4 separate regions of the Homo sapiens genome follow, and all the other regions are reported to be linked to region 3. The links are microRNA targets in miRTarBase. Many come from high-throughput screens and were not tested one by one. Region 3 holds a microRNA gene; each other region holds the end of a gene's coding sequence.

The links. The annotated mature microRNA hsa-miR-6721-5p reads UGGGCAGGGGCUUAUUGUAGGAG and lies in region 3 at 3,670-3,692, opposite strand. An mRNA with a match to its seed (bases 2 to 7 or 8) in the 3' UTR can be bound and repressed. Matches are read on the target gene's strand: a 7mer-m8 pairs with bases 2 to 8, a 7mer-A1 pairs with bases 2 to 7 and ends in A, and an 8mer does both.
Region 1: miRTarBase lists KIAA1614 as a target of hsa-miR-6721-5p. Seed matches in the 3' UTR shown: 7mer-m8 at 1,465-1,471, 7mer-A1 at 1,117-1,123, 7mer-m8 at 747-753 and 7mer-m8 at 582-588.
Region 2: miRTarBase lists GJB1 as a target of hsa-miR-6721-5p. Seed matches in the 3' UTR shown: 7mer-m8 at 298-304.
Region 4: miRTarBase lists CCSAP as a target of hsa-miR-6721-5p. Seed matches in the 3' UTR shown: 7mer-A1 at 1,480-1,486.

The regions. Positions count from the first base shown.
Region 1 is chr1:180,944,970-180,950,114 of GRCh38, reverse strand. KIAA1614 reads right to left here. Exons shown (of 9, transcript NM_020950.2): 9 at 1-4,812. The coding sequence ends at 4,527. KIAA1614-AS1 (KIAA1614 antisense RNA 1) reads left to right here. Exons shown (of 2, transcript NR_145481.1): 2 at 1-425. Among named protein-coding and RNA genes, the nearest start is that of KIAA1614-AS1, 7.3 kb to the left of the region's middle. RefSeq lists an enhancer at 140-690.
Region 2 is chrX:71,224,300-71,229,421 of GRCh38, forward strand. It overlaps GJB1 (gap junction protein beta 1), which reads left to right. Exons shown (of 2, transcript NM_000166.6): 2 at 1-1,217. The coding sequence ends at 260. Among named protein-coding and RNA genes, the nearest start is that of GJB1, 3.6 kb to the left of the region's middle.
Region 3 is chr6:32,166,415-32,171,559 of GRCh38, forward strand. It overlaps MIR6721 (microRNA 6721), which reads right to left and starts at 3,702; the gene lies at 3,616-3,702. It overlaps EGFL8 (EGF like domain multiple 8), which reads left to right. Exons shown (of 9, transcript NM_030652.4): 3 at 84-206; 4 at 287-396; 5 at 496-591; 6 at 673-843; 7 at 936-1,015; 8 at 1,089-1,242; 9 at 1,496-1,867. The coding sequence ends at 1,542. AGPAT1 (1-acylglycerol-3-phosphate O-acyltransferase 1) reads right to left here. Exons shown (of 7, transcript NM_006411.4): 2 at 4,883-5,091; 3 at 4,523-4,656; 4 at 4,011-4,186; 5 at 3,751-3,846; 6 at 3,552-3,624; 7 at 1,798-3,034. The coding sequence starts at 5,082. The coding sequence ends at 2,862. It overlaps PPT2-EGFL8 (PPT2-EGFL8 readthrough (NMD candidate)), which reads left to right. Exons shown (of 16, transcript NR_037861.1): 10 at 1-206; 11 at 287-396; 12 at 496-591; 13 at 673-843; 14 at 936-1,015; 15 at 1,089-1,242; 16 at 1,496-1,871. RefSeq lists enhancers at 624-1,376, 2,885-4,084.
Region 4 is chr1:229,320,573-229,325,717 of GRCh38, reverse strand. CCSAP (centriole, cilia and spindle associated protein) reads left to right here. Exons shown (of 4, transcript NM_145257.5): 4 at 307-4,703. The coding sequence ends at 483. Among named protein-coding and RNA genes, the nearest start is that of CCSAP, 20 kb to the left of the region's middle.

The sequences.
Region 1 (5,145 bases), not on the chromosome of region 3:
ACTCCATTCCACTGTCTCTGCTTTTAAAGTGGAAATGCTCCTAGTGCAAATAACGCGTTAAACTGTTGTCATTTATTTATACCTGACAGTGAGTGAGCTAATCTTTTTCTGAGATGAGCTTTTCTTGTAGAATTGGGAGGAAAATAGTTTTTAAAAATTAGGAACCATACCTACTCAGTGCCTGGCACTATGATCCAGTTGCTGCCTCAGGTCACCCAGGCCCAGCGTAAAGGCCGGGGTGGTGGGAAGGTATCATCGGAAGAGCAAAAGTGGCTGAGCCACATCCAAGCCTGGTTTGCTGCACTCTATTGCCAAAGACTGACACTGGCCTCAGTCTTACTCAGATATGGCTCCTCAATTGGGATGGGGAAGCATCTGAGCAAAAAACCCCAGGAAAAATAAAAATTCTAGCCACATATTTCAAAGCTGCGGTGGCTCCCTCTCCTCTTCTGCACATGCCCCCTCCTCCCCACCCCAAAGAGGCCCTGCCTGGGTCTAGAAGGTGCCAAGAGCCAGCCTGCGGGAACTAGCTTCTCTGCTTCTTTGCCAGGCTCCGGCTCTCAGGGAGCCCCCCGTCAGTGGGGCAGGCCCTGTGGGGCTTGGGCTGGCTGGGCTGGGAAGTGTCCAGCTGAGGAGGCCCCCTGCCCCCAACCCCCGCCCGCCGGCCTCAACCGCGGCTGGAAACCTTTCAAATTCCCCTCCAGCTGCTCCCACCTGGGAGAGTAAGTGAGGTGCTGGCTCTCCCAGGGCAGGCTGGACCCCCTGATGCCCATGCTTCATGCTGGGTGGACACAGGGGCTGAGACACAAGCTGAGTTTGCTGGAGGGACTGCGGGGCACACCCCTGGTGTGGGCATCAGCACTGGCGGAATTCAGGCTGCTCAGCGCAGCCTTTGGCACCCTCGCTGTTCGCAGCCCAGCTCGGCTCACTCTGCATTTCAGACATGAGGCCACTGCCCACGCGTTACTGTCTTCACTTCCTTTTCCTCGAATCAGGTTCTTAGCAGGGGCCCGAAAGGGCATCAGGTCTGCTCCTCAATCTCTGGCTTGAAACTAGTCACCACATCTTGGACTAGTGGGAAGTCCTCTCTCGGATCCCCCAGCCCCGTAGGAGCTTTGGGCAGCCCAGCCTGTGGCCCTGACAGAAGTCAGGCGTTTTAAAGCCTGCCTCTGAAGTGTGGGTTTGAAAGAGCACTGATCTTCACCGAAGTACCTGAAAGTCTGTGGCTCTGAATTTAGTAAATCCAATCTTTGTACACATTCCCCCTCCCTGGTCTGAGGTGTAGAATCCCTTTTGTTGCTTCTTGGCCAAGCCGAGCCTTTTCTGTGGGGCTGTCTTCCCTGACAGAGTACATCTGCCATCCTGACTGTACAAGGCGTTTTCCCTCAGCCCTGTCTTTTACCTCCTCTAGATGGACCTTTCACTGCTTGCCCTCCCTGTCTACGGGTTGGTGGCACGGGGAGGGGGCAGGTAAGAAGGGGCCCCTGGGGCAAACCCAGAGAAGTGTCTGATGTGCTGTGGGAGTTGCAGGTGGGGACTAATGATAAACCCTGAAAGAATGCTGCCAGAGCTAGGCCAGACACTGACGTCACGCCTGCCATTTTGGGGAGACTCGGGTAGGTTTCGCAACTGAAATTCGTGACACAAATATGACAGCCTGCTGTCATAGGCATTTATTGTCTGCTGGAAATGGCCTTTGTTGAGGATGTGTGATCTCTATGTTGTATCCAATTAGAAGCAGAAGGCAAAGCCTGCTGTTCTCACAGGCTCATATAGAGTCGGATGTGAAAGCCAGCAAGTTAATACCAGCATCCTGCCGGTTCAGTGCGGGGCGCAAGCCAGCCCTCCTCACAGCCCCTTGGAGCCTGGAAGAAGCGACCCTCTGCTGTTGGAGGATGGCCTGGGACACGGAGGCCCCAGCACTCGCCAGGCTTCATGTGCGTGGGGACCCCTGTGTGCCATCCAGCGCCCATGATGGCAGCAGGACCAGGGAGTGCCTGGGCACAACGGGGAGCTGGCACCAACTCAGGCGAGGGTGCCGGGGGCCCTGGGTCACTAGAGACCCCTGCCCATCAGAGCTCCCTGACGGGTGACAGGGAGGGGCTCCCACTGCCTACAAGGGAGCAAAAAGGGACTCTGGGGGAGGGTGGGCGGCAGAGTACAATGACCTGTTGTGTGTGCACTCACATCGACAGGTGAATGCGGATCACGCTGGTCCCTGTCTGGGGTTCTCTTCCCCAGACTTTCTCTTTCTGAAGGGGAGGGAAGAAAAATGCTAGGCCCTTTCCTGTGTGCCTTACCAAATGCTCCTTATGACTCTTCTAGGTAGGTTTTGTCATCCTCATTTCACAGATTAGGGAACTGAGTGAGGCTCAGTGGGGATGTCGCCTGCTCTAGATCACATAGCCAGCAGAGGTGCCGGAGCACAAACATGCTGCGTTGTCTGCCTCTGCCTTCACACCACCTGTCCGGGGGGCCTGTCCTGCTCCCCTAACGGGAGAGGAGGCTACGGGAAGGCCTGTGAGGAAGGACTTTTTATCCTCCTGAGGTCCAGAGTAGGCAGAGACCTGTCCTCTCTTCCTCTTACATGTCCAGCTCATCAGCAAATAGTCAAATCAACCAGAATCCAACCCCTGTCCCCTCTCCCCTCTCCCCATCTCCACAGCCGTTCCCAGTCCAGGCACCACTGTCTCTGTCCTGGACTGCTGAAATAGCTTCAACACAGGGCTCCCTGGCTCCACCCGTGTCCCACTGGGGTCTATTCTCATAGACATTAGAGAGTCTCAGTGCTCGCTCCGAGCCCTCTAGTGGCTCCCATCTCATTCGGCATGAAAGCCAAAGCCCCTTACAGTGGCACAACCCCATCTTTCCAAACTCTGCTCCTCCCAACCCGTTGCCTGCTCTGCAGTGTCCAGCCTGACCCTCACAGTTCTCACAGGCCAGGCTCGCCCCTCCACCAGGGCTCCGCACTTGCTGTTCAGTCTGCCGGAATGCTCTTCCCCAGACACCCATGGGGCCCCTTCCTCGCCCCATCCACGGCCCTGCTCAAGTGTCATCTTCTCAGAAAAGCCTCCCCACACTCCTGTCTATACCAGCACCTGCCACACCTGCTTTATCTGTCTGTTTCTCAGAACTTTCTTTTCACCATCTGACATACGTAGCACATTATACATAACAAGAGTACACATTTTATAGATACAATCTAACTGCTCACTGGGTAGTATATTCATGAGGATAGGGATTTGGTCTGTTCCATTTACTGCTGTATCCCCCGTATCTATAACACATAGTAGGTGCTTAGTATATATTTGCTGAAACAATGATGGAACAGACATGAGAACTCATGCTGTGGTCTGCAAATGTGGTAGCAGGCAGACTTTTTTCCAGGCTAAACAGCATTGAGCTAGGAGATCAAAGCACAGGACTCAACCCCCCATCGGCAGAGCCCGGCCGCAGCAGGCTTCTGTGTTCGTCTTTCTGTATCTGTCTCTCCCTTTCTCTCTCCTTCCTTCCCCTCCCCTCCTTCCCCACCCTCACATACGTGTCTTCCTTCCCTGATCCTCTGGGGAATGTCTTTTATGGGCCCTTGAGATGCATTCTGGACCACAGACCTTGGGCGTGGGCTTTTGCAAGTCACGTTGCCCTGAAAGACTCATGGATGGGGTGGAACTGAGAACTGGTCAGAGTGCAGAATGATGTCCAGGACTTCTCCCTGCCATTGCCTGGGTTGAATTGAGACCCAGAGCACACCCCAGTCAGAGGCCTGCAGCCAGGATTCATCTGAACATAATCATCGGGCACAGGCCTGAGGGAGGGACGGGATGCAGAGACAGACAGGCATGCTCCACGTGCCCAGACATACTCCACAGCCGGAGGAAAGGAACCGTTTCAACGCAGCCACATCAAAGGGACTGCTGAGAACCAGCAGGCACAGACAGTTTCCCTCTGGCTCTCCTCTGCAAAGATGGCCTTCAAAATTCTAATTTATTTATTTCTTTTTTTTTTTCCTTTGAGATGAAGTTTTGCTCTTGTTGCCCAGGCTGGAGTGCAATGGCGCAATCTCGGCTCACTGCAACCTCTACCTCCCGGGTTCAAGCAATTCTCCTGCCTCAGCCTCCCAAGTAGCTGGGATTATAGGCATGCGCCACCACGCCCAGCTAATTTTGTATTTTTAGTAGACATGGGTTTCACCATGTGGGCCAGACTGGTCTCGAACTCCTGACCTCAGGTGATCCAGGCGCCTCGGCCTCCCAAAGTTCTGGGATTACAGGCATGAGCCACTGCGCCCGGCCTAAGCTTCTAATTTCAAGATGTCATCAGACAGCAGGGGGACAGTGGAGTCAAACCTGCCAACTCTACCCCCTCCCGCACACTCCCCACCAACGCACTCTCAGCTGCAGTTGCCTAGGGCAAAGGCTCTGCAGGTGCAGACTCCTAGAGAGCCCTGGACAATTCAGAAAGAGCCCCTGAGGGGAGAAGCCTAGTCCTGTAGTCAGAGGCTTTCTGAATTCCCAGAGCTGCACGGCTCAGCCAAAGACCAGAAAAGCCTCTGACCACAGCCAGAAGGCCCTGCCTTGTTTGCTAAGGCCGCCCCAGCCATGGGGCTGAGGAAGAGGAGAGGGCATACCTGAGTCTGGGCGCCCATTCCCAGAGGCCACGCAGAAGCCGAAAGTGCCCCCTGGGGAGCGCTGCAGCTGCAGCTGGCTGGTGCCGTCTGGGAACACCTCCACCAGGCGGCCCACGGTGCGAGCCAGGCTGGGAGCACCCACGTCCTCCACACTGAGGGCACGCCGTGGTGAAGTCTTGGCCGGCCTGCGAGGGAACCAGAGACACAGTGAGGGCAAAAAGCATCAGGCACTGGGCACAGCTCTTCCCTGGCTTACAGATGACCGATGCCTCACAGACTTAAGAGCCTGGCATTGGAGGCTGGGGTTCTGCTGACTTCAGCCAGCAAAAAGAGCCTGCTAGGGCCAAAACTGGTGGGTTTCCGCCGCTGTGCAAGGCCCCCCAAGGCCTGCTGTGGAACTAGAAACCCCACCCTCCCAAAGCAGTGGTTTCAAATTTTGGGGGGTACAGAGACCTTTGTAAGAATCTGACAAAAGGTATAACTTTATGTCACATTTCCAGGAGCTAACATACACCCTG
Region 2 (5,122 bases), not on the chromosome of region 3:
CTGGCATCTGCATCATCCTCAATGTGGCCGAGGTGGTGTACCTCATCATCCGGGCCTGTGCCCGCCGAGCCCAGCGCCGCTCCAATCCACCTTCCCGCAAGGGCTCGGGCTTCGGCCACCGCCTCTCACCTGAATACAAGCAGAATGAGATCAACAAGCTGCTGAGTGAGCAGGATGGCTCCCTGAAAGACATACTGCGCCGCAGCCCTGGCACCGGGGCTGGGCTGGCTGAAAAGAGCGACCGCTGCTCGGCCTGCTGATGCCACATACCAGGCAACCTCCCATCCCACCCCCGACCCTGCCCTGGGCGAGCCCCTCCTTCTCCCCTGCCGGTGCACAGGCCTCTGCCTGCTGGGGATTACTCGATCAAAACCTTCCTTCCCTGGCTACTTCCCTTCCTCCCGGGGCCTTCCTTTTGAGGAGCTGGAGGGGTGGGGAGCTAGAGGCCACCTATGCCAGTGCTCAAGGTTACTGGGAGTGTGGGCTGCCCTTGTTGCCTGCACCCTTCCCTCTTCCCTCTCCCTCTCTCTGGGACCACTGGGTACAAGAGATGGGATGCTCCGACAGCGTCTCCAATTATGAAACTAATCTTAACCCTGTGCTGTCAGATACCCTGTTTCTGGAGTCACATCAGTGAGGAGGGATGTGGGTAAGAGGAGCAGAGGGCAGGGGTGCTGTGGACATGTGGGTGGAGAAGGGAGGGTGGCCAGCACTAGTAAAGGAGGAATAGTGCTTGCTGGCCACAAGGAAAAGGAGGAGGTGTCTGGGGTGAGGGAGTTAGGGAGAGAGAAGCAGGCAGATAAGTTGGAGCAGGGGTTGGTCAAGGCCACCTCTGCCTCTAGTCCCCAAGGCCTCTCTCTGCCTGAAATGTTACACATTAAACAGGATTTTACAGTAAATGAAGAGGTGGCTTGTGTGTTTGTCAAGTTCTTTCTCCTGCAACCTCTGACCTCCCCCAGGATGAGCTGGCCTTGGTTTTTTACTGATTAAGAAAGGAACAGGGCAAAAGAAGTAGTTACTTGAGTAGCTGAAGCTGCAAATGAGGAAATCACTGTACTTCTGGGCCGCAGAGCCAGCCCCGGAGCCATTCCTCCCTGTTGCTTTTGTTGTTGTGGTTCTTGTCTTTTTCATTGTCTAATAACAGCTTTATTGGGATTTAGTTTACATACCTCCTTCCTCTGATTTTGAAAAGATTAAAAATGACAACTCCCTCTGAAGAGACAAGAAATGATTGGGAAATTTCTCCTGCCCCAGAGAGTGGCACAATTCCCTGGGTACCTCGGTGAGAGCCCCTCCCCCGCACATCTGGAGACCTATCTCCTTACTCCCTCCAAACTCAGCATCCCCTACAAGCTGATGTCCCACAGTCCACCTGTTGGGTTGCACGATGACCCTGACCCCTTTCAGCTGGACAGAGCCCCTAATTTCATCCTCTTTCCCAGTTTCCTTCTCTCAGGAATCAATGCTTCCCACTCCAGAGATGCCTCCACACAGGTCAAACATTTCATAGCAGCAGTTTCCTCACCAGCATCACCCTCCCCTGTCAGCTGTGGTAGGAAATGCCCCAGGCTGAGACTTGGAAAAGCTGCGCTGGAGTCCTGATGCTGTCACTTAGTAGCGGGGCATTCCCTTCCCCGAACCTCAGCTTCCTTATGAGCAAACGAGAACTGGCCCAGCACATCTCTCAGCTCCCTTCAACACTCTGTGCTTCTGGGATTCCTGAAAGATTTCCCCAAGTAACAGTGCATTATCTTCCCCCAGCCTCACAGGGGTTTCCTTAGAGTCACTGCCCCCACAAATAGCCTCTCAGAGTAAAAGTTTCCCCCATGGCAAGTTTGCCTCCTCAGCTTCCTTACCTCCGAACAGGAGAAATTATTTGCCACTCCCTCTCAGAGTATGTGGACTCCATGTAGGAAGTGCTGGATATCAGAAAGGGAGAGAAAATCAGACACAATCTCATGTGAATTGTTCTCCCTTGAGACAGTTTTTCCTCTTTGGAGAGAAAGCATGGAAGTTTTCTTTATTTGAGATTTCTCCTTTAGAAAAAAAAAAAAGGAAGACTGGATGTGGTGGCTCATGCCTGTAGTCCCAGCACTTTGGAAGGCCAAGGGGAGAGAATCACTTGAGCCCATGAGTTTGAGACCAGTCTGAGCAACATAGAGAGACCCCATCTCTACAAAAAAAATAAAATAAAACAATTAGTCAGGTGTGGTGGCATGTGCCTGTAGTCCCAAGCTATTTCGGATGCTGAGGTGGGAGGATAACTCGAGCCCAGGAGGAGGTTGAGGCTGCAGTCAGCTGTGATCACGCCACTGCACTCCAGCCCGGGCCAGAGAGTGAGACCTTGTCAAGAAAGAAACAAAGAAAGAAAAGGAAGGAAGGAAGGAAGGGAGGGAGGGAGAGAGGGAGGGAGGGAGGGAAGGAAATGAGACCTTTAGAGGCCGAAGCAAGAGGATTGCATGAGGCCAGGAGTTCAAGACTAGCCTGGACAGCATAGCAAGATCCTATCTCTATTTTTTTTTTTTTTGAGACGGAGTCTCGCTCTGTCACCCAGGCTGGAGTACAGTGGCGCGATCTCGGCTCACTGCAAGCTCCACCTCCCGGGTTCACGCTGTTCTCCTGCCTCAGCCTCCCGAGTAGCTGGGACAATAGGCGCCCGCCACCACGCCCGGCTAATTTTTTTTTGTATTTTTAGTAGAGACGGGGTTTCACTGTGTTAGCCAGGATGGTCTCAATCTCCTGACCTCGTGATCTGCCCGCCTCGGCCTCCCAAAGAGCTGGGATTACAGGTGTGAGCAACCGCGCCCGGCCTCCCATCTCTATTTTTAAAAAATTGAAAGAAAGAAAGGAGAGAGTAAGTATTCCTTTCCACCACACTTAGTAATCCCTGAGAGAGAGCTTCCTCTCCCTTAAAAGAGGAACATTCCTTTCCTACAAGAAATTTCCTTTCCCCTTAGAAACTGACATTATGTTCCATCAGAGGAGAGGTCCCCACCCCCTCACGGTGAGAGAGATTCCTTTTCTTATCGAAATCCATCCTTTTCACCCACAACAATACAACAAACACATCCCCTCTCCATACAACATGCCATCAGGAGAAAGATTTTCTTTTTAAAATTCCATCCTGGTCCTGGTCGGAAGCAGGGAACCTCATGCCCTCTCCACATTGAGAAATGCTAACCCCCACCATCACATCAGAAATGTAGTTTCTCTTCAAAGATTCTACCAATCCCCCTTGGAAAGAGGCTCCAACTCTATATCAAGGCTTTCCTCTCCAGGGGGCAGTGGTGGGACAATAAAGCTATCAGGCTGGGTGTTACAGCCCAAGTGGGGGACACAGGATTCTTGGGTCCCATGAACCAGGTAGGAACAGGCCCAAGGAACCTTGAGGGGAGCTGGTGGACACAATGTCTCAGGGAGGTAGGAGGCAGAGTTAGACTGACTCCAAGACTGACTTTTCAAATCAGGCTCTGTCACAAGAGTATAAGAGAGAGACACAGAGGCAAATGAGGCATGCTCTCTGCCACGCAGTAGAAATTCAATGTGCTGAGTGACCTGGGTTATGAAGAGGACACTGGAATTAGGAGACCTCGTTCTCCACTGATGAGCTCTGTCCCCTTGGACACGTGATATTTACCCTCTCCAGGTCTGTTTCCTCATCTCCAATAGAGAGTTAATAATAACCTCTCTACCTCTTTCACAGAACTTTTTTGAGAATCAGACAAGATGTGTTCAAAAGCTGGTTATGAACTAACGGTAAAGTAAGGTAAGATAGTATCATAAGCACTGAGACCATGGCCTTACGACATGCTAGAATTCTCAATGAGCCAGAAAGGAGTGAGGCTGGTTCAGGTAGGCTGAAGCTAGTTAAAACAATTTGGCAATAATAGTGTTGGCTCCCCCAGGGAGTGGACACCAGTCCAAACAGCAAAGTCCAAGAGAGGTTGCAAACCTGAGCATGATTCATTTAAGGGTCAATATTCAAGGGGTCTGATCAGGGGGCAGAAAAGGCATAGTAACAGGAAGCTCTTGCATGCTGTATCTCATGGAACTGGTCCTTTTAGGAATGTCTATGATCTTTTAGAGGTGTCTATGCACAGAGATGCCAGGAGCTGGGGGGCAAAGGAACAGAGGCAGATGAACTAGGAGAGTAATCAAGGCCTCCAGCCAGCTGAGTTGGGGTTTGAAAGCAAGCTGTGGTATCCATAGAGAATTGGCATGGCAACCACAAACTGGTTCAGATGTTCAATCAGATAGCCTGGGTGCACACAGTGGGGGCTAGAGGGGAATGCTTGCTCCATTTACTGATTCCAAAGTACTTAAATGCCAGACCTGGCCTATGGTGCAGAAGGGGCTACACAATCGTACCAAGCTAAGCTCCTGTTGATTCCTGGAGTAGGCCAGGGAGAATGTACAGGGTCAAATGGAAAATGGATTGGGACATTCCAGCAAGGGGCAAATAAAACAGACAAAAAATACCCTACAGATATGACAGGAATTGGCTGGGCACAGTGGCTGTTGCCTGTAATCCCAGCAATTTGGGAAGCCAAAGCAGGCAGATCACTTGAAGCCAGGAGTTCGAGACCATCCTGGCCAACATGGTGAAACACTGTCTCTACTAAAAATACAAAAATTAGCCAGGCGTGGTGGCACATGCCCATAGTCCCAGCTACTCAGGAGGCTGAGGTGGGAGAATTGCTTGAATCCGGGAGGTGGAGGTTGCAGTGAGCCGAGATCGCGCCACTGCACTCCAGCCTGAGTGACAGAGTGAGTGAGACTCCATCACAAAAAAAAAAAAAAAAAAAAAAAAAAGCCAGGCACGGTGGCTCACGCCTGTAATCCCAGCACTTTGGGAGGCCGAGGCAGGTGGATCACTTGAGGTCAGGAGTTTGAGACCAGCCTGGCCAACATGGTGAAACCCCGTCTCTACCAAAAATACAAAAATTAGCCCCGTGTGGTGGCGCACGCCTGTAATCTCAGCTACTTGGGAGGCTGAGGCATAAGAATCGCTTGAACCTGGGAGGCAGAGGTTGCAATGAGCCGAGATCATGCCACTGCACTCCAGCCTGGGTGACAGAGCGACTCTGTCTCAAAAAAAAAAAAAAGGTATGACGGGGGTGAT
Region 3 (5,145 bases):
CCTCTTGAGGGAAGTGGGACTCCTGGCTCCCCAGGGCCTGGCCTACTCAATCTCTCCCACCTCATCCTCTGGCATGGACGCAGTCAGGGAGTCTGCTCCAAGCAGACACTGGTGGTCCCGCTCCACTACAACGAGTCCTACAGCCAACCAGTGTACAAGCCCTACCTGACCTTGTGCGCTGGGAGGCGCATCTGCAGCACTTACAGGTGAGGGATGGGGAGATGGGACCCCAAGAACCCCAACTAGGACCCGTACTCAGGGTCCTGAGCCGGGCGCTGTGTTCCAGGACCATGTACCGCGTTATGTGGCGGGAGGTGAGGCGGGAGGTTCAGCAGACCCATGCAGTGTGCTGCCAGGGCTGGAAGAAGCGGCACCCGGGGGCGCTCACCTGTGAAGGTGAGGCTGGGTCTTCCGGGCCTTGCGGGAGGCGCGCCCCACGGAGCTGGGGAGCTGGGTCGTCGGTTTGAGTCTGAACCCCACTTCCTCTGTCCTCAGCCATCTGCGCCAAGCCTTGCCTGAACGGAGGCGTCTGCGTTAGGCCTGACCAGTGCGAGTGCGCCCCCGGCTGGGGAGGGAAGCACTGTCATGTGGGTGAGTCAGCTTGTCCTCCCCACCTACCCAGGTGCTTGCCCCCGCCCCCTCTCTCAGCCCCTTCCTTTTTTCGGTAACTAGACGTGGATGAATGTAGGACCAGCATCACCCTCTGCTCGCACCATTGTTTTAATACGGCAGGCAGCTTCACCTGCGGCTGCCCCCATGACCTAGTGCTAGGCGTGGACGGGCGCACCTGCATGGAGGGGTCCCCAGAGCCCCCAACCAGTGCCAGCATACTCAGCGTGGCCGGTGAGTGGGCAGGAGTACGGGCCACCCGAGGGACTCGGGACGGGCGTCCGGGCTCGGGTAGTGGTCACACTCTTGGTCTCCTTTGTCCCTAGTTCGGGAGGCGGAAAAAGATGAGCGCGCTCTGAAGCAGGAGATTCACGAGCTGCGAGGGCGCCTGGAGCGGCTGGAGCAGGTGAGCCAAGCCTGCTGGGTGGGGCGAGGCCAGACGTCACTGTCAATACCCTGAGGCATCTCTTCCTTTCTAGTGGGCCGGTCAGGCTGGGGCCTGGGTCAGAGCGGTGCTGCCCGTGCCGCCTGAAGAGCTGCAGCCAGAACAGGTGGCTGAGCTGTGGGGCCGGGGTGACCGGATCGAATCTCTCAGCGACCAGGTGCTGCTGCTGGAGGAGAGGCTAGGTGCCTGTGAGTCCTCACACTCCTCCCGCCTTGACTTCTATTCCCCAACTTTCCCCAAGACCCCTCTCCATTCAGGCATTCCCTCTTTCCTCCAAGCCCCTCTCCAACATTCACTATCCTCATGCCTCTCCACTTTACCATCGTTCTCTTCTGAAATCCTGTCCCCAGCCCAACAGTTTCACTTATTGTTTGGTGAGAGTGGCAGTGTAGTCCACTCCAGGCTGACCACAGCCACTGTGTCTGCCATGTCATTAACCAGGCTCCTGTGAGGACAACAGCCTGGGCCTCGGCGTCAATCATCGATAAGAAGCCTCTACAGCACCCCTGCCCCCTAATTTATACAGAAACCGGACCCACTAATCCTCTGGGATTGGCCGACTGTGAGCTGCAGATAAGGCTATCAGCCACCAAAGAGCAATGAACAATGGAAACTTCAGAGAGCTGAAGAAAGGGGGAGGCCTGTGTTCTTGGCCTGCCCCTGAGTCTTCTGGCTGGGGGCAGGTTGCCTGGGCAAGAACTGCTTCTTCAATTCCTTAACAAATGCAACCACCAACACCCAGATCTCTCTCTCTCTTTATTTTCAGTTTTTTTGCTGTTATCCAGATAATTAATAAAAACCAACCACGCAAAACTGGGTCCCACCCTCTCCTTTTGCTCCCAGCCTACCTCCCCAGTTGTGGGAACAGGTCTGGAGTGAGAGGCAGGGAGTGGCTAATGCCACCAGGAAGAAATGAAAACTGGCTCAGAGAGGGGGAAGCCTCAACAGAAAAAGAAATAAATTAAAAGCCCTCCTATCCCCTCCAGCCAGGGTTCGTTCCTTTCCCCAACTCCCCAGGGGGCAGAAGTGAGTGCAGCACCTGATGTCTGCTTCTTCCCCTTGTGTCTGGTGAGATGGTGCAGCAGGGCTGCAGGGGGCTGGGTGGGGTCATGTCCACTGAAGAACTGTACTATGGGGACAGAAAACCAGAAATGTGGAGACTGAACTGGTATCCCAGAGAGTGCACGACCCTGGGCATCTGGGCAAGGGCAGGCATGAGACCTCTGAATTAGAAGGGTCCAGCCCCCACTGACAGGAGGCTACACTGGGAGGGAAGGTGAAGGTGCTGAGGAAAGCTCCCATGATGAGCCTGGGAGTGCTTCAGGTATCAGCTTCCAGCCAGAGGGCGAGAAGTCCTCCTCACAAATGGATGAGTCCATTGAATCCATGGACTTTGGAGTGGGGGGGATTTGTTCCAAAGAATGGATGAGTCCACTGGCCAATGTGGGGTAGAGGGGTAGAGAAGACCACATAGGAAGAGACTCCACTGGGGATGGAATGTTCCCCTCCCTTGTGTAGGCTGAGTCACTGGAGATGAGGGGGAGGCAACTGTCCCACAGACAAGACAGTAGGAGGTGGGGGTCAAGAGTGGAGACTGCACCGAGGCAAGAGTCCATGGATGGGGCCAAGAGGGGGCAGGAGTGGCGCTGTATCCACATTCACTTCAGAAGTTGAAGATTCCAAAGAGGAGAATAAGTGGGGAGAGGGGAGACAAGGAAGAGGGTTTGGCCCTGCTTCAGGGCCCACTGGGTGGGTAGGTGTGGGGAGGAAGATGGGGACAGATGGGAGGAGAGCTCAGAGCCAGGGTTCACCCACCGCCCCCAGGCTTCTTCAGATAGTCACCACCACCCCGGCCATCAGTGGAGATTTCCCGGAAAACAGTGAGCATGGAGTGCCGGACTCTGTCAGCCAGAGCTGGGACGTCATCTGGTGTCAGCCCTTCCGTGGGCACTGGGGGCAGCACCCGCACCTGACATTGTCCTGGGGCAAGGGGAGCACCATCATGGCCTGTCCACCCAGGTCTTTGCCCACAGGTGGGGCCCAGCTTCCGAGTGATACTCTTCCTCAACCTTTCAGTTCTCTTCCCCCAACCCTGGACAACCATCCCTGGGCTTGCCAGCTGCCACTTCTGAGGCCCTTCTCCTATACAAAGCCTTCTCCAATCCCCAGTTCAGACATCTCCTCAGCACCCCTCCAGCCCCCCTCCTCTGGGTTTGGCATTTACTGCTGAATGAGTGTTATTCATTACAGCTTTGTGCACACAGGCCTTATCTTTCCTGTTAAGATTAGTAACAGCCTCTCTTGGTGGGACCAAGTGCTACCCATCTGGCAGGGTATGGTGGGTGCTTAGTAAAGACTTATTGGCTGATGTGGGGTTAGACTAGATGACTGTGTAGACATCTCATGGCTCTGACACTGAATGATCCCCCTGCCTCACAGGGATGTCCTCCCAGCCTCTCCGGACACACCCTACCCCAGAACTGCTCAAAGCCCTCACCCGAGGTGAAGCGACGCTCCTTCTTGCAGTAGAAGTCTTGGTAGGAGGACATGACTATGGGGACAATGGGAACCTGGGGAAGGGTTAAAGCAGGTCAGTCCACAGCTCTCTTCAGAGACTCCTACAATAAGCCCCTGCCCAGAGATGAGGGAATGGTGGGGGTTGGCAGCTGAGTAGCAGAACGAAGAGCAGTAGTCACCTGGGCCTGCACTGCAAGATGGAAGGCGCCACGTTTGAAGGGCAGCATGGAGCCATTGTGGTTTCTCGTTCCCTCAGGAAACACCCAGACCCTCACCTGGGGGAGAAAGAGGGTCAAAGAAGACAAATACATATGGAGGAGTCAGAATAGGTGTGATGTTATAATGGGACCTTTGAGGCCCACTGGCCCTGCATATCAGTTTATTTACAACTGTTCTACTCTGTATCCCTCCAATCCCCCATTTCCCCAGGATGACTCACGTCCTGGGTGAGCAGGGTCTGGGCGACCTCAGACATGACACTGATGGCATCCCCCGTGCGCTTCCGGTCGATGAAGATGACTCCTGCCAGCCAGCAGGCCAGCCCGGCAGAGCCAGCCCACAGTAGCTCGCGCTTGGCAATGGGCACACAGCGGCCTGGCAGTACCTCCATCATCCCTTGGGCAGGGTGGGAGTGGGTGAGGATCGGGGTGGAGGCAGAGTGTCACAGAAGGCAACCCACCTCACCCAGCTCATCACCCTCTGGTAGGGACTGGAGGTGAAGGAGGAGACTAGGCAGGGAGGGGGGCCCCAAGTGAAGGAAAGGGTGACCAAAAGTATATGTAACCTGCTTATGAGGGCAGTTCTACCCAGGGAATGAAGGCCTGAGTGGGAGGCAAGGGGGCAATGTCCCAGAGGAAGGGGAATTGAGGATCTCTAGGAGAAGATATTCTAGGGAAGGTTTCAGGAGGGGAGGCATGGCTGGGGGAGGTGTGCCCTGTGGTGGGGTCTCACCAAGCAGATCGAGAGAGCTCTGGTGGTTGGAGACAACAACATAGGGCTGCGAGGGAGGGAAGTGGTGAGCCCCTCGCACCTCCACTCGGATCCCGTACAGGTATTTGATGTGGAGCAGCATTAGACGCAAGATCCTGTGGGGTCATGGCAAGGGGTCCCAGTGGGATCCATTGATGTCCATCTGCATGCCTCAGCTCCCCCCACCTTACTGTCTTTCTGACCACCTTTGCAGTCCTCTCCCCATTCCCTGTCTCTGGTCTCTCTCAGTCTTTTCTACACACACCATGCCCCCTTCCCCCAATCCACTACTCACTTTGTACCCTTAGGTTCCCTCATTGCCCAAGACCCCTTGCCCCTCACTTCATGTTCTCGACGTTGCGTCCTCGCACGGCACACACAGGGATGGCGAGCACAGCCAGGAAGAGGATCCAGCCATTGTAGAAGGCCATCTTGAAGAAGTACTTGGCACTGGGGCTGCAGAACCACAGGGTGGGCAGCAGGAAGAGCAGCAGCAGGAAGAGCAGCAGCAGCAGCATCCATGCCCCTGGCCACAAATCCATTCTGGCCACCTGCAGGGGATGGGGCAAGGGACAATCAGCCTGGTTTCTGGAGGAGAGTGGGGT
Region 4 (5,145 bases), not on the chromosome of region 3:
GTTCGGACAGTTTTCCAGAGCCAACTCTAGAGGCACATGCAAATTAGTTGCTTACCATTTCTGTCTAACATTTAATTTGCTGTTGCTTAGTTTCATTATCCCTGATATGAATCAAGTGAGAACAGCATCAAGTGAGAATGGCTCTTCTGTGGAAGGTTTTATGTAAAGAAGAACTATATAGAGAGGCAGGGCTTGACTCTGCCCTGCTGCAGTTGACCTGGCAGTAGCCAGCTTCATTGCAACCTCTGTTGAACATTAGTATAATAGCCCCTTAAGTTACTATCCTTTATTTTGAACTCTCTTTAGATTCATGAATCAGCATTACGAGCCAAGAACAGAAGACAGGTGGAAAAAAGGAAACTGGTTGCTCAAAGGCAGCGAGCTCACTCTGTGGATGTGGAGAAGAACAGAAAGATGAAGGCTTCCTCCTCAGAGAACCCGTGGATGACAGAATACATGAGGTGCTATTCGGCAAGAGCTTAAAGAAACACTTGCGTGGACAGCCTCTTTTAAAAAGTGTAAATGACTGAAAGGAAAAACAAAACAAAAACCATCAAAAGAAACGGACACAGGTTTAAGAAACCAACTGATTATGCAAGGTTTTTTTTAGGGAATTTGTAAAAGATTGTTTTATTTTGATGAATATTGGTCACCTACCTCGGCAGTAGGGCAGACAGTTGAAGCCATAGACATTTGGTTATTTATGAAGATAATTCCCTAAATCTTTGATATTCTTATAAGGTTTTTGTTTTAAAGCATCTTAATCTTTTAAGATACTGACACCAAATGCCTTTAAATGGCAACAGATGCTTACAGTTCAGTATTCTTTTCATAAGCTTAGGTAGAGCCTATTATCATCTTGTTCTAAATAACTTTCCAGATTCCATAGCTATAAGATCATTCCATCCTACAGCATAAGACTCGTTTTCCTTATATGCCGTTTTGTTTGTGAAAGAATATCAAGTCAAAAATGAGTGTCAGCACTACTACTGATTCCATGTATAATGAAAGTAGAACTTTGCTAGTTCCTGAAAATTTTTAACTTATTTGTATTTCAGTTCAGCAGCATCTTTATGTAGATTGTGATATTTAAGAATTATCTGGGCTGGGCGAGGGTCTCTTTTTCTCTTTCAGTGATCATCTAGGCAGTTATTATTTAATAGTTTAATAGCTCAAGTACATTCCAATAGACGAAGTGCACACAACACAATATGTGTGTACAGTAGTAGTAAAGTTTCTTTTGAGTAGTCAAAGACTCACTTTTTTTATTGCCTTTTTTTTTTTTTTTAAAGAATACATACTGTGGATTCAGTCCCTTGTCACACTTGACCTTTTGGCATACACCCACTGTGGACTTTTGCCTCTTCTGTAATGGCTGGCAATGACATTTCAAACTTACAATCTGGAATTGCACTTGGTACATTGGCATTGCTTGTTCCACTGGGATGGGGACCAGTGTGAAGATGCCTGTTAGATAGACTGCCCACCCCTACTTTCTCTTTTTCTTTATAGCACTTAACAATAACAAAGTCTTGATGATGTACAGTATTCAAACTTTAGGTTGAAATACGTTACTCTTTGATTCCTAGCCAGTAGATCTTATCTACACTTTAATGGGAGAGAATGGTGGTGTGTGGGTAGGCACAAATTTATGTAAATAGTGCTCCTTCTCTTTAGTATGTTTGCTTTGGGGGTAGAAAAATGGTTTTAACAAACACTGGTTTCCATCAAATGAATGATGTCTTCTCCATCCTGTGGAGACAAGAATCTGCTAGAAGGATATGTGCTAAGTTCCTTATAAGAGATAATGGTGCTCTGCCTATGCCAGCTTGGCACCCGAAGATGTGTGAGTGGACGTGAGGCTGAGTATTACCTTAGTATTTTTCTCTGGGTCTTTGGAAAACCATAGTCAATTTTTAGAACATATTGCTTTCATTCCCCATAAACTCTTCACACATGATAACTGTTTAAGCTTTGAAAACACATACTGAAGTATTGTGAGCTTAAAAAAACTTTTTAAATATTTGCATAGTTTTGAGGTGAATTTGTTTCCTTACAGATCTCTCCTAATCATTGAGATGTATATTTCAAAAGAGGAAATTTTACATGTTGTCCAAAACAGCCTTGCTAGTAACTGGTGAATTTTGGTATTAACTATTATTAAAGTCTTTAAACGACACAGGTACCTAAAGATCACCTTAATGTGGCAATTTGTGATGGTGTAGCTAGCTGATTGTGAAAACTGTTCCTTTAAAGTCGCTTCTTGCATGTTCGGTGTTAGTCATCCAGCTCAGGCTTGTGTTGCAGCTGACAATCTAGGAAAGACGGCCTTAGAGAGTGGTGCAGGCCCCACACTGACGGACTGCCTTAGAAACCCGACTTCCTCTAGACTTTGAACCGCCAGACTTTTCTCTTGTTTAGAAAACAAACTTATATTTAATGTACTTACTACTTAAAACTCCAGACAGAGATATAATGTAGAAGGCAAATATTGGCCAATTTTTTCCTCTTTTTAAGTGGAAGACAAATGAACGGGATTTTTAAAGTGCTTTTAAAGTGCATGAATGGTTAATAAATCAGTATGAATTGTAAGCCTTCATCTTACATCCAAGTCCTTAGTTGGTTAGGGTTTCTTTTCTTTCTTTTTTAAAGAGTGTCAATTACCTTTTGAACCTGTGAAAATTTGATAGTTGTTAACAGTCTGATGGTCCTAATTCTTTCTTTTCATTCTAGAAATGAATGTGGTTGTAATCATGTTCCTAATTCTTGGGACAACCTGCAAGACAGTGAGACAGTTTAAAAATTACCTTTCATGTTGAAAAAGTCTGAAACAGAGAACCCAATGATATTTAAAATAAATGCTACATAAAACTCTTTTTAAAATTTTGATTTTAACTTAATTAAAACAATGTCATAAATATGCTTTTTGATTTTGTTACTGCTTTTAATATTAAAGTAATAGAATATTGAAGCAATATTGTCTAGCACTCTGCTGGACATTAAGTCCGCGGGAGGAGAAGTGAACAGGAATCGATTCTTTGTCTTTTAACTGCCCTTAGTTAGGAGATGTTAAAATACTTGGCACCTCTGGTTATATGTATGTTATGTGTGTTCTCCCCCCTAAAATTTCTAAGCACATTTATTCACTTTTAAAATGAATCTTTAAAAGATTATAGTTAGTAGTTATAGTTAATATTCTATTTACTTGGAAAAATGTGAATAAATGGATCTTCAAAAGATTCATTTTAAAAATGAATAAATGTATAATAGGCTATAGGTGATCTTACTTGCGTATTAGGTAGGAGGCACATATTTATACCATTTCATATGTAATATCTTTGTCATTGTGTTTCATCGAAGATCAATTGCTAGCAACTTGAAGGGTATTTATACTTGGGTCACTTGAACTCAGCTGACTAAATTGTAAGAACGAGAGCAAGCAAGATGGCTGTTATTGGAAGCCATAACTTCCAGAAGATAATTCTGCACAATTCGTAAGTTAAAAAAAATCTGTAGGGTCTTCCACTATCCTTTTTCAGGTTGATAATGCTGTTCTGGGCACACACTTTGTAAATGGAATGTTATGGTACAGTCGCCTCTCAGTATCCATGGGGCATTGGTTCCAGGCCTCCCTTAGGATGCCAAACTCCATGGATACTCAAACCCCTTCTATAAAATGGTGTAGTATTTGCATATATCCTAGACACATCCTCCTGTATGCTTTAAATCATCTCTAGATTACTTAAAATACCTAATACAATGTAAATGCTCTGTAAATAGTTGTTATACTATATTGTTTAGGGAATAATGACAAGGAAAAAAAAGCCTGTACATGTTCAGCACAAGTGAAACCATCCTTTTTGCCCCCAAATATTTTCAATTTGTATTTGGTTGAATCCATGGATGCAGAACTCACGGATACAGAGGGCCGACTGTACTTTCTTTAAAGTGTTCAAAAGTATTACTAGCAAAGAGGAGGAGGAGCAAAGCATATATCAGAAGTAAAACAATTTTTCTTGTTGACTGCTTTGGTAAAAAACAGTTTGATGGATAGTTTTACATTTCACTGGACTAGATAAAAAATGGTGCTAATATTTATGTAGCTTGATGCTATAGTTGCTTTGGTATCAAACTTAATACCTAACCCATATAAGATCCTTATTATATAATTTTGTGATCAGTAAAATGATATTTTAAAGAGTGATCTTAAAAATATGACCTGGTCATTGCACAACGTTTGCATTTGAAATGAATTTTTGTACTATAGGGTGGATATGGAGTTATTCAGTGCAAGTGTGTGCTTAATATCAAACCCTATGCAAGGAGCTATGTCTAGATTTTTGGTCCAAATTTGCCTCCTTCAAGCCTACTAGTGTGAGATGGAAAAAAATCGATTGCTCTTTTAATATTATTTCCATTTTGAAATTCTCGACACTTGAATGAAGGCAGTAGAGGCCTCTTTTTGGATTTCTCTTCTAATAACAAAACTTTATTTAGGGAAGGTTTCCCTGTGCTATCGTAAGTTTGTTTTGAGCACTGCATTCACTTTAAAATTCTGGAGGAACAAAGGCTGGGCACATAATCACAAAGCCCAGGCCACACAATAATTCGGGGTTGTATTTTCTAAGAACTATGTATTGTTTTTAGCTTATAGTTAATATTGTATTTACTTGGAAAAATGTGAATAAAGTTAATTAACATTACAAGCTGAGACTCTTTTGTGAGAAGTAATTCTGCTTAGTACATAAATGACTTGAAGAAAATGTATGATCATATTGACTCCTAAATGGATTTTTCAGTAGATAAATGTTTAACAAGACACATTAGTTATGTCCGGGAAAAGATAAATAGTGTATATACACTTTGAGTTGAGCTATAATTTTTCCCAGTCTTTTCCATCACATCTTCTTATGGTTTTGAAAGTTACAAAAGTAATAGTGCATGGTTAAAATAACTCAAAAAGAAGTATAGAGTTGGCTGGGTGTGGTGGCTCACGCCTGGAATCCCAGCACTTTGGGAGGCCGAGGCAGGCAGATCACTTGAGGTCAGGAGTTTGTGACCAGCCTGGCCAATATGGTTAAACCCCGTCTTTACTAAAAATACAAAAATTAGCCGGGTGTGATGGCACGTGCCTGTAATCCCAGT